Regions from separate parts of the Homo sapiens genome. Here all the other regions are linked to region 3. Evidence: fine-mapped expression QTL. A gene starts in region 3. Each other region holds a variant in brackets. All regions are shown on one strand. Distances are between the middles of the regions.

Region 1 (4,000 bases), 36 kb before region 3:
GGGCACCTTTCCGGCAGGGAGATGCAGGTTCAAATCCTGAAGGTCCCCCACACCCACCCTGGGAAACCCAGCTCCCATGACCCCGGCTCCCAGGCCTGCATGTCCAACAGCTGCCTCCCTGTCTCCAAAGAAGGCACCTGGCCCGAGTACCCCAAAACCAAGACCTGTGGGCCTCCATCCCTAGGTGTCCTCCCTCTGCAGAAAAACCCACTGCTTGCCAGAGGCTACAGCCAGCACCTGACAGGCAGCGCCTCCCACCACCCCTTGCACAGGCAGGTGGCTCCACATGTGGGACAACCCACTGCACATGTGTGACATTCTTAAGATCCCAGCACTATACACGCCATGGGATGTAAAACACCCTTCTCAACGTGCAACAAACACGGCCGAAACCGTCACCGAAAGCACTGCGCCTGTCTGCTGCTGGGGAATCACTCCGTGGTTAGCACCCATCATTTCGAGAAGAAAGAGTCAATTGTGATGTTCTGTTACCATCCCAGTCATTTCCAGGGATTTCTGAGAAGCGGCATGTGCCTGGTGTCCCTCTGTCCATCTGCCCATCTGTCCATCCGCCCACCAGCACCTGCTGAGGGCCTGCGGCCCTGCATGCATGGCCCAGGCTGCCAAATCAGTTCTGTCACCATGGGGCGGCAAGGCACAAGGAGGAGCAAGTGCGCGTGAGACGCCCAACAGGAGAGATGCCTGCACTTCAAGGAGCTTTCTCGCCTGGTGCTGGAAAGGACCCAAAGTACTCAGTGCCGCAGCAGCACATCGCAAGTGCGCAGTGAATCTGAGTGAAATCCACGCACGCCTGAAGGCTTCCGGAGAAGGCATCGCAGGTCCAGCCATGGGAGGCTGGGGGGAGCGGGAGCTGTGGCACTGCAGCCAAGCACTTACATGTGCCACACACCTGTGGGGCGGGCGGGGGATGCTGCTGATGCTCGAGCAGGGCAAGGTCTGTGATGTGTGTGTCCTCATGTGTATGCGTGTGGGGTGCCCATGCACATACATGTGGGGGTGCGCAGGTGCTTAGGGGTGTACAGGCGTGCATGTGTTCATGTGTGTGCACATGTATGTGTGCATGCTCATGATGTATGTACCAGTGTATGTATGTGCAGTGTGTGTCTGCATTACGATAAATAAAGCTAAGCAAAAATACATCTGCAGGAGGGCAAGGACCGAGATAAATCATTCTGAACTCCAAACAGGTGGAGGGTAAGATGTAAACAGATTTTTCCTGTTGTTTAAATGTACTTCGTTTTCATTATACTGCTGTTTGCGTGCAATGAATGCAAGTGCACTGAGGTGAGGAAAAAGGAAGGCAGACACTCCTTCCTCCGGCTACCCCACAGACACCCACACCATGAGAAACTAGGGCACCCCTGCAGATGGGAGGCAGCGGTGAGGTCGCCTCCAGGCTCGGCCAAGGGTACAGGAAGGGCAGAACCTGACCAGGCCATTTCCAGCCAGACTCTGCTTCCTGTGGGGAGCTCCTGCCCCTTCAGGTCCTAAACCTTCAATCACCCAGATTCTGGGGACCCCACAGGGAGCAACATAGTCATGCCACCCTCCACAAGCCCAGCCAGGGAGTGTGGCCCCATACCCGATGCCAAGGCGAGGCTCCTGGCTGCGGAAGCTGAGTCGGAAGCACGGTCCCCACACTCCTCCTTACTCCCCGCCCACGCTCCTCCCCACTCCCCACACTCCTCCCCACCCCCCTGCTTCTCCCCACTCTCCCCATACTCCCCACTCCCCCTGCCATGCTGCCCCAACTCTCCCCATGCTCCTCAGTCCCTCCAATGCCCCCCAAGCTCCTCCCCATTCCCCACATGCTCCTCCCCACTCCCCACGGTCCTCCCCACCTCCTTTCTCCCCACTCCCCCCATGATCCTCCCCACACCCCCACTCCTCCCCCCTCCCCACCACGCTCCTCCAACTATCCCCACTCACCCCATGCTGCTCCCCATTCCCCCCAAAGCTCCTCCCCACTCCCCCACACTCCCCCCACGCTGCTTCCCACTCCCCCCACGCTGCTTCCCACTCCCCCCAACGCCCCCCCCACGTTCCTCCCCACCCCCCCACTTGCACTCCACTCCCACTCCTACTCCTCCCCACTCCTCCCCACAGCTCTGGCCTCCCCCAGCCCGAGGGGAGCCCTCTAAACCCTCCAGCTCAGGCTGCTCCGTGAAGCTCAGTTCCTGCCGCTTCCGCTCAGCACAAAGGCACGGCCCCTGCTGGAG[G/T]CCCCCGCTCCGGGGAGCTCTCAGACGGGCAGCCAGCACCTCACTGCCCATCTGCTCCTTCCCTGCTTACTCGCAGAGTCAAGACCTGGAGCCCACGGGGCCAGGAGGCACAAAGCACAGCTTCCCAGGTGACGCTGGACAAGTCGCTGACCCTCCTGGAGCCTCAGTTTCCCCAACCCAGTGGCTCTGAATGAATTCCCTGGATTCCTGAGAAGGAGGGAGCTTCCTCACTGGTTCACAGGGAGAGAGGGAGGGAAGGGGGTTCTGACAATTAAAAACAGGTCTGCAAGTCAGGAACTCGATGATCTCCAGAGGTGCCATGATCCCCTCGTCTACCCAGCCTCCCCTGGGCCCTGCAGCCCCTCCCTACCCTGTGACCCTCAGCCCAAGCCCCTGGGGAGGGTCTCTGGTTCTCAGCTGTGGGGTTGGGCCCAGCGGGTCTGGGGGCCTGGTGGGGAAAGGGTGTCTAGGGTACTCTGTCTTTCTACCTTTCTGAGTTGTTTCTTCTTTTGCTTTGTTTTGTTTCGTTTTGTTTTTTTTCCAACGAGTAGACATTACTTTTAGAATTTCTTAAAAAGTTATCTCAGCTTTGGGTTGGGTTAGGGAGGAGGGAGTCCTGGGAATGTATAAAAAGCACGCAGCCAGTTAGTTCCTGAGAAGTCAGAAAATGCGAAGATCAACTGAGAAGCTGTACTTTCTGGAAATTCCAGGCGAACCAGCACCAGGCCCCTCGGCTGGTGGGCAGAGCACCAGGGGGCGAGGGAGCGGGAGGGGGATTCCCTGCTGCCAGGCCAACAGCTGGGCCAGCCAAGGTCAGGAATGCTGCAGCTGCAGCCTCGCCTTCCGCCCCCACCCAGGCGGGAGCCCAGTGGGAGGGAGGCTGCCCCTGCCAGGGCCTGGGACAGAGCCCTCTGTGGGGGACAGGCCAGGCAGGAAACCCGGCCGTCCTCAAGCAGGAAAGCTGGGCCAGAGCTGGTACTTCAGCAGGGAGCTGAACTCCAGTCCTGGGCGCACCTGTTTGCAGTCACAAAAAGGGCAGACTGCAGCACCCACCCACCTGCCCAGCTCCCCACCCAGCTCCCCACCTGCCCGGGGTACCCAGGACTCTCTCCAACGCCACCAGTGTCTCTCTGGTTCCTCACTCTGTGCAAGCCTACCCTCTGGTGCTCTCCCGGTTAGGATGATCGTCCCTGCTTTACCAGGTGGGGAAACTGAGGCTCGGCCTGGCAGTTACGGGCCTCCCCTGTACCAGCTGCTGCAGGTCCGGTCTCATTTCACCAGGGAAGGATGTGTGCCCAGGACGCTGCTCCCTGGGATGAAACGGGTTTGTTTTTTTCTCCCAGTATAGAAATAACCCTGCCTGGATGAGGGCAGGGAAGTAGAATAACATGAAACCGACAAGAACTCCCATCCTAAAACACCACTAACCACTGAGGGCGTTTTTCTGTCGTCTCTTGACTCTGGGTTTTTAGGGGTTTTTTATGTGTGTGTGGTGTTTTCTACATATTTGACTACTGGGAATAATATGGCATATTGCGTCCTGGTGCCCCTTCGCTGACAGCACAGGTGTCCCAGCTCCCTGCCTCCCCGGCTGCAGGGCAGGGCGAGGAGGGGAGGCCAGGGACATGCGGGCCTGGTACCTTCCAGGGCAAGAGGGACGTCATCCCCGTGGGCAGAGCAGGAAATGGAGGAATGTTGAGTTCCCTGCACCCGCTGTCACCGTCACAGCTGGCCCCACCTCAGCCGGGACACCCTGCCTG
Region 2 (4,000 bases), 140 kb before region 3:
GTGTGGGCACATGAGCATATATACACACACGTGTGCACACACACACACCCATCTGCACATACACACACACTCCATGAACCTGCACACCTGCACATACACCCCCATCTGCACATGCACACACATACCCCTTGCACCTGCACACACACACCCCTTGCACCTGCACACACACATCTGCATATGCACACACACCCCATGTACCTGCACACACACAAATCTGCAATGCACACACACACCCATGTGCACCTGCACACATACATGCACTCATCTGCACACACACACGCACATACCCATATGCACACACACACACCCATGTGCACCTGCACACACACCCCCATGTGCACATGTACATACACACACGCGCACACCCATACACACGCACCATCTAACACAGTTTGTTCTGCCTAAACTTGGAGGCCCCAGCCATGGCTGGACGAATGCAAAAGAGGAGCAGTGGTGCGAATGAGGCAGTGACCATGCCAGGCCAGAGAACTGGGGCTGCCCACTGCTACTCCTCACTGAGTTGCCCTTGGCTTGTGCTACTGACCAGGGCAACAGAGGCCTGGGGTGTGGAAGAGGTGCCAGACTGATGGAGCAAGCCAGCTGGTGACTCGAGCCTACCCTTCAGAGAGCTGGCCGCTGTGACCAGAAGCAGGCTGGAGGGGGCCAGACCCCAGCCTCAAAGCCCAGCAATCCAAAGGTGGCCTCTTCTGACCTCCCCTCCCCAGGAAGGAGTTTAATGTCTTCCAATTACTCCCCTCCCACTCCCTATGCAGAGGAGGTTGAATCCATTATTGTAACGAAAGGAAAGAAAAGGAAAAAAAAGACTCTCCAATTAGGCTGGCCCAGGGACTCACATGTCATCCTGTCCCCTCACAGCAGACCCACTGAGGACAGGTGGCCAGGATGTTTGATGTCACCAGGTGGGACAATTAAACCCATCTTGCTGGCGGGATGAGCTGCTAAGCATATAATGACTGCCACCTTCCGTCCCCATCTCCTCTCAGCCCAATTACCTGGAATTAAGCAGGCAACACCAGATGGGAAAAGGGACACCAGCCCAGATGGAAGAAAAAGGGACACCAGCCCGGATGGAAGAGAGTGGAGAGAGCAGGGGATGCTGTGCCCAAGAGAGAAGGCTACAGGAGCCACAGCAATGTCTTCAAACACAGCAAAGACTCAGGGGAGAAGAGGCCGGGACTCGTGGGGCAGGACAAGGTGTTGGCGTGCGGACCCTTCACCTTGGCTCACAGTGTGCAGAGAGGATAGCACATTCGTTCACGGAGGTGTGGGAACTGCAGAGTCTGCCAAGGCCCATTCACGGAGCCTCCGGCTGAGATGTCTCACATGAGAGGTATTTGGTACCTTGTAGGTGATTTGGGAAGGCAAAACCAGGTTTGGGAGTGGAAGTCAAGGACGCAGCCCTCACCACTGCACAAACAGACTTTCTCATTATCAGGGCCAGCCAGCAAGGCACGGGGTTCCAGTGCTCTCCCGGCCACTGCAGGAGCAGAGGCTAAAAGGAAAGAACTCAGCAAGAGGCTGTCTCTGCAAGCTGCCTCCGTATCCCGGGAGGGCACCCGGCCTCTCCCTGCACGAGCCGCATCTTAGGTCTCGTTGCCCAGTGCTCCGGGATAAAGCCTGCCACCCGCCACCAGCTCCCCCCGCACATGGGAAGACCAAAAGGTGGGTCCTTGAAGCCATAAGGAAATGCGAGGTCACTGCTTCCAGTTCCTAATGCTTTGTCGTGCTTAGATTCAATACGGGTATGTCTGATATTCTGAGAATTCACTTCAAATTGAAGCAGGAAGTTCCAGCTTACTTCCATTTCTCTCACTCCAACCTCAGCCTGACCCCTGTCCCCTGCCTTGCAGCC[G/A]TCACAGCAATGCTAGTCACAGGAGCCAAAAGGTGGAAACAGGCCAGAGTTCATCACGTGATAAACGGATACGCAAAATATGGCCTAGCCACACACTGGAATGTTCCACGGCCATAAAGAGGAATGACGCAATGACCGGCTACGGCTGGGTGAACCTTGAAAACAAGATGCGGGGTGGGAGAAGCCACGTGCGAAAGGCACGCACCGTATGATTCCATGGACATGAAACATCCAGAACAGGCAAACAGAAAGCAGGCTGGGGGCTGCCTGAGGCTGGGGAGGGCGGTGACTGCTCATGGCGACCGGTTTCTTCCTGGGGTGTGAAGATGTTGTGAAAGCAGATAGAGGTGGTGGTTGCACAACATGGTGAAAGTACTAAATGCCACTGAATTGCGTACTTTACAAGGGTTACATTTATGTGATATGAATGTATTTCAATTTTTACAAGTCAGAAAGCAGAAGAGAGGGTGGCAGGGCTGGGCCAGGATGAGACAATCAAAGCCAGGAGCCCAGCCCAGTGAGGAGCCAGGGTTGAGCCCCAACCGGGTCCCCATGCTGGTATGTGCCCCCCACCGGGACCCCATGCTGGTATGTGCCCCCCACCGGGACCCCATGCTGGTATGTGCCCCCCACTGGGACCCCATGCTGATATGTGCCCAGACACGCCACATAGCTGGGCCTTCAGACAGCCTCCCAGCCAATCCAGGGGGCTCTGCTCCTGCTCTAACAGGTCACCAGAGAGTTGGAGAGTTGGTGGCTTCAAGCAACACAGACTCTTACAGTTCAGGGGGTCAGAAGTCTGAAGCGGGTCTTAGGGGCTGGCGTCAAGGTATCGAGGGGCTGGTCCCTTTCAGGAGGTGCCGGGGAGAATTTGTCCCTTACCTTTTCCAGCTTCCGAAGCTGCCTGCATTCCTGGGCCCACAGCCCCATCGCTCTAACTCTGCCGTCACATCTCCTTTTTCTGACTCTGACCTTCCTGCGTCCCTCTTAAAATTATGTGTATTTACATCTGCGAAAACCCTTTTCCTCGTCACACTCTCAGGGTTTGGGGGTTAGGACATCCACCTAGCAGCCGCGGGCCTTCCACAAGGACCAGGTGCTGCGCTGCACGATGCACAGACACAGAGCAACCCCGCGAGGCAGAGTCATGCTCCCAGCCTACAGAAGAGACAAAGGTTCCAAGAGCATCCCTGCCCAAGGTCATTTGGCTGACAGAAGCTTCCTTCATGGGACCTGACCTCCCAGCCTGAGGACACCTTTCGGTTTCCTTCTCAGGAAGTCCTACCCTTCACCATCTCCTCCCTCCCAGCCGTTCAGAGCTGTGATGACCCCAAATTAGGGCACCCCCAATCTGGAGGGCTAGCTCTGGCCACAGCAAGACCCACATCCCCACACGCCTCGCTGGGTGCCTTCCACAAACCCCTCTCCCACTCTACAACCACAATCCTCCCCCTTGCCCCGCTTCCCCAACACGTTTGATCCCCCAGCCGGCACCAGGGCGGGATTCTTAGATTAAGTCTCCAATTCATCAGCCTCTGAGAAGTATAATTGGGGCTTTTATGGAAAATCAGCTCATTATGCAAAGTGCAAGGGTTGTGAAAATGATTTTTTGAAGGAGCACGTTGGGCTCCTACCCAGCCATGAAATGAGGGAGAGATTCTTCAGGGCTGTGGGCTTGGCTTGTGGGTTTTCAAGAAGGAAAGGGTTGTGTTAAACTAGAACCTTTTGCTAATCACTAACACTACAAAACGCTCGAAATGAAATAGTGTCTTGTGAAGTGCTGGTGGCTGCCCCCAGAAGGTTCAATTCCCCATGGAAATCCCAGCCCATCCGGAGCAAGGTGGGACATTGCTCAGACGCAGCCACCAAGTGGGGCTGCCTGGGAGGGTTGCCTGTCACCTGTCTCCTGAGCTCCCGGGTGAGCGTGTGAACCAGTGGAGGTCTGCGCTCAACCCCAAGGGCTGCAGAGGGAAAGGACCCAGGAAAAGTCCCAGAGTGGGGCTCAGAGGAGGGAGGGTGGAGGAGAAGGGCAGGAAAGCCAGGCCCCGGGGAGGAGGGCCTGCAGAGGTCTTCCTGCAAAGCCTCGCTCTGCGCCCAGGAGGCCCTTCCCTTTGGCCTGCAAACACC
Region 3 (4,457 bases):
TGGATGGCAAGATCAGCCTCAGCGACACAGGGCACTACGTGCCACAGTCCAGGTGACGGTCATTTCCTGGGCACTGTGCGAAGGGTGTGCCTTCTGTGCCTGCCCTTAGCAAATCCTCACAGCATGGCTACGAGGGGACTGCTATGACTGTTCTCATGACAGAGATGGGGAAACTGAGGCTCTGGAGGTCGTTGCCTACCTGGGAGGGGACAGTGCCAGGATTCAATCAGAGCGGAGAGCCACACAGACACACACCCATCTGGTCCTCCTACCATCCAGGCCCCTACACGCCCTCCACGAGTCCGGCAGCAGGGCCCCTAAACACCCCTCTACCGGCCCAGCAGCGGGACCCCTAGACACCCGTCCACCCCCCAGCAGCAGGGCTCAAGGGGCCTCTGTCAGGGTTCGTATTGCTGCCTGGCCAATGGCTCCAGAGACCCCAGGAAGTCTCTGGCTTGAACTTCCAGTGCAGGAGCTGAGCCAAGCCACCTGCCACAGCCACGGCCCCCTCCTCTTCCCATCTTCCCAAACCACAGCTGGGGAGGGGCAGCCCCCGGACCCAGCGAGTCCACCAGGCAAGGCTGGGCTCCTCCCAAGCCTCCTCTGTGCGGACCCAGCTGCCCTGCCTCTGCCCTGAGCCCCAGCCTGCAAGCAGCAGGGAATCCTGCCCGAGCAAGTCAGCCTGGGCAGCCCCTGGAACTCATATCAAAGGCAGCCACCTTGGTTCGAGGCCCAGCCCTGCTCCCCAACAGCTACCCTTCTCCTCAGTTTCTCCAGCCATAAAATGGAGTCCAGACTTCCCAGTCCCCGTGGGGCTCTGAGAACAGATCCGGGGAAGCCCTCTGCAGCAGTGACCGCCACCCCCGCCACCTGCACCTGACCACTGACATCCTGCGGGAAGAGGCGCTGGCTCCCAGGGAGGCCTCTGAGGGCTCCTGCTAAGCCGGTCCAGGCAGTGCTGGGTAATCATTACCCAGTGGGAAGGCGGCCCCTTCCCCTCTGGGCTTGCCTTTGTCAGCGCCCCCCAACCCGGCAGAGAAAGGCCCGGTCTCCTAGGAAACGCAGTCACCGCCAAAGGGCAGAGGCCTCGCTGCCCAGCCTGGAATCGCTGGTGACTCACTCTCCCTCCTTCCCAGGAACCACGTCCTAAGTCCCACTGGTGAATGGTCCCTCTCCACATGGAGTTGCCACTGCGCGCGGTGAGGGGCTGCTGAGCTGGCTGGAAGACCGCACCTCCTCGGCGCTGGGTGGACCCGGCTGCCACCCGCTCTGCCTCCCCCGACCTCTTCTAAGCTGCTCCCGGTAAGGATTCCGCGACCCCCGGAGAACAGGACGGAAGCCTCGATTCTCTCAAGTCTTAGCCAAGTTCCCTCTTAAGAGGCCAAGAAAAGCAGCTTCGTTCGGCTGGGCAGGCATTTTCCTGCCTGGCCCTGCGGCCGCACGCGTGCCTCCGCCGCGACAAAGGCCACACTCAGCGCCCGAAGGAGGGGTGGGGGTGTTGGGAAAGCGATGGGGGCCAGGACTGGGGCCAAGTGGCCCTGGGGATCCTCGAGGCGGCTCGACCCGGGAGCCAGGACTGGCGCCAAGTGGCCCGGGTCCGGGTCCGGGAAGAGGCGGAGGCCGGCGAGGGGGCGGTGCCCGGGGCCAACCCAGCTCCCTCCGGCCCCGAGGGCTCCCGCCCCGCGCCCCTCCCGGGCCCTCCAGCCGCGCCCCGGGCCGGCGCAGCGACCGCGCCCGCTCTTCCACCGGCGTCCGGCCAGGAGGCGCGAGGCCCAAGGATGCGACCCACGACGCGCACACCCGGCTCGGCAGGCTCCCTGGGAAATGAGGGGCCACTCGCAGGGCCCCGCAGAGCGAGCGCAGCGCCGGAGCCTCCCCCATCCCAGGCCGCGCAGACCGCGGAACCGGCGCACCAGAGCAGTGCCCGCGGGCGGCGGCGGCGCGACCCAGGCTGAGGGGACTTTGGCCAACTTCGCGCCTCCTGAGGTCGCGTCTCGGAGGCCCGGGGCGCACCCTCCAGCCGCCCGCCCGCGTCCCGGAGCCCGGCCGCCCCAGCCAGGGCGCCTGGGCCGCCGCCGCTGCGACCTCCGCGTTCAGTCCGCGCGTCGGGCAGCGCGAACGCCGCCTCCCCGGGGCCCTCCCGCCCGCCGGGCGCTCACCTGGGACATCTGCGGCCGGAAGTTGATGTCCTTGAGGTCGATGGAGCCGGGGGAGAGGTTGTGCAGCAGCTGGCACAGAAGGACCCCGTCGCGCAGCGCCTGCGCCAGGTCGAAGACCACGGCCGAGGGCCACACCACCCGGTGGTTGGGCGGCAGGACCTTGCAATCGATGAGCCAGCGGCCGCACTGCCGCCACTGCTCCATGGCGCCCGCGGGCCCGACCGGCTCAGGGCAGTGCTCGAGCCAAAGTGCAGCGGCCGCGGGGCATCCCGCCCGCGCGCGCGCGGGGCTCAGGGCCGGGGCGGGGCTTCGCGCGGGCTGCCCCAGGTCCCCCGCTGCGCCGCCGTGCGTCCCCTCCTCTTCCTCCTCCTACTCCTCGGGCTCCTCTCGGGCCGCCGCTCCCGCCCACGTGCGGCCGCGGGGCGGGCAACGGGCAGCGCGCCGGATCTCCCCGCTTCACACACGCAAGTGCCTGCGGGCCCCGGGCCGGGCTCCACGCAGCCAGTCGCCGCAGCGCTCCCCAATCCGCGCCGCCGGGCGCCGCATTCTGCGCTCGGGGCGCCCCGCGGCCGCCGCGGCTCCTGCCCCGCCCGAGACAAAGGCCCGGCGGGGTCGCTCGCTCCGCGCGTCCCGGGCCTGGGCCGCCCGCGTCGCCGCCGCTTTGTTCGCCCCACCCGCAGTCCCCACGCCCGGCGCTGCGACTCGACGACTCGGCGGCTCGGCGGCTCCACGGCTCCGGGGCGCTGGGGGCGCAGGGGGCGCGGCCACGGCCGGGCGGGGCAGGGGCGGGGCCGGAGCACTCGCCTGGCACCTCCCCGTGTCCCAAGCGCCGCCCCCGCCCCCCCACTTCCTGCCCCGCTACCGCCCGCGAAAGTTGCGGTGGGCGGGGGTTGCGGCGCAGGCCCAGGTCCGGCCGACTTTCTCCAAGGGCGCTCGGACTTTGGGGAGCCCTTCTCCCTGGGGGAGCGACCTCGCCCGTGGAGTGATGGCCGGGCGTCCCCCCGGGTGCCTTTGGTCCTCCGTGGAGGTCAGGAGGTGGTCCCTGTCGCGCTGGGCGCCCTCGCATGGCCGTTCGGTAACGACAGACTCGGGAGAGGGCACCGGGCTGGGCCGAAGCTTACTGAGCCCCCTTGGCCCATCAAGCCGCCCCGGCGGGATACCCGAGGCTGAGGCTGAAGGCACACGGGCCCAGGACTCCCAGAGCCCTCTTCCTGTCCTCCGCCCTGGCCGGGGGCCCATAGGAAGACCCCCGACCCTGCATAAAGGCCAGGATTCCCCAGCTTTTGGCCAAAGTCCTGGCCACTCGCAGCTGCCCAGCGGGCAGTTCCTGGCGTCCAGGGCGGAATGCGTGACATGAGTGAGGGCAGGAAGGTGCTCTCCGGCCCAGGGTCGCAGCCGGCCCCGGTGCTGATCCGCCCTGATCTCCCTTCTAGGCCACACCCTGGGTGGTGGGGGCGCGGTCTGTCCAGCTGGCAACGTGTGACGGTAGGAGGGGCTTCAAGGACAAACAGATTCTGCAACTGAAATTATATGGATCCTGGCTCAGCTGCCGGGAACCGCGGGTTTTCACTGCTGATTCACTGGGGGACACCAGGCAAGTCCAAGCCCTTCTCTGAGACTGGCTCAGCCCGGAGGCTGGGGTGCGGTGTCTGAGGGCTCCCACCCTGGACTCCGGTGGAATCCTGGGCCTGTATGAGCTGGGGCTGCACTGCAGCCCCCGGACCCCTTACCCCGTGGCTTCCCTGCGCAGGGGCCGGAACGGGGATGCGAGCGCAGAGAGGGTCCCCTGGGCCCAGGGCCTCCGATGGGGGTCCTGTCCTGGAAATTGGTCTCTGCAGAGTCAGACTCACCCCTTCTCCACTGAGGTGGAAGCAGGGGGTCCCAGCTTAGGGTCTGGCCCGTAGAGAGAGGTCAGGAAGGAGCTGGCCCCTGCAGCAGTAAACTCAGGCCAGGTGGCTGGTGAGGCGGGGGCTCAGGTCTCTTGCCCTTCCCCGAGGAAGCAGCAGTGGGCACCTTTAGGGCAAGGGGGAGAGCTTTCCTCACCGAAGCAAGATGGGGCAGCAGGTGGACCCATCAGCATCTCCCTAAGAAATCAGAAAGCCAGGAGTGAAACCTGAGCGGGGCCCTCCAGCCCCATCTGAGAGCCTACACTGATCCCTCCTCCTGCAAAGCCTCATCCCCTCCTCTCTAGAGCGGGGAGACCCGGCTCCCACTGGACTTGCTTGTGAAGAATGGACGGATAAATTACCCAGAGGCTTCCCACTGTGCTGGGACAGAAAGGGCTCAGAGAGGAAGAAG

The links. PIP is the estimated chance that this variant, and not a neighbour inherited with it, causes the effect. A credible set is the group of variants that fine-mapping cannot tell apart.
Region 1: its variant is the best candidate, but not a certain one, in a credible set for the expression of VAV2 in whole blood (TOPMed, PIP 0.61).
Region 2: its variant is the best candidate, but not a certain one, in a credible set for the expression of VAV2 in whole blood (INTERVAL, PIP 0.77).

Annotation. Positions count from the first base shown.
Region 1 is chr9:133,953,707-133,957,706 of GRCh38, forward strand. All of the region lies in intron 1 of VAV2 (vav guanine nucleotide exchange factor 2), which reads right to left. Among named protein-coding and RNA genes, the nearest start is that of VAV2, 37 kb to the right of the region's middle. RefSeq lists enhancers at 496-785, 3,492-4,000, 3,673-3,782, 3,833-3,882. The variant G/T (reference allele first, on the strand shown) is at 2,241.
Region 2 is chr9:133,853,988-133,857,987 of GRCh38, forward strand. All of the region lies in intron 3 of VAV2 (vav guanine nucleotide exchange factor 2), which reads right to left. Among named protein-coding and RNA genes, the nearest start is that of SARDH, 120 kb to the left of the region's middle. RefSeq lists enhancers at 1-429, 430-930, 3,511-4,000. The variant G/A (reference allele first, on the strand shown) is at 1,874.
Region 3 is chr9:133,989,916-133,994,372 of GRCh38, forward strand. It overlaps VAV2 (vav guanine nucleotide exchange factor 2), which reads right to left and starts at 2,409. Exons shown (of 30, transcript NM_001134398.2): 1 at 2,160-2,409. The coding sequence starts at 2,363. RefSeq lists enhancers at 1-723, 724-1,451, 1,452-2,179, 2,908-3,635, 3,532-3,721 and silencers at 1,562-2,001, 2,042-2,131, 2,402-2,551, 2,612-2,711, 2,812-3,121.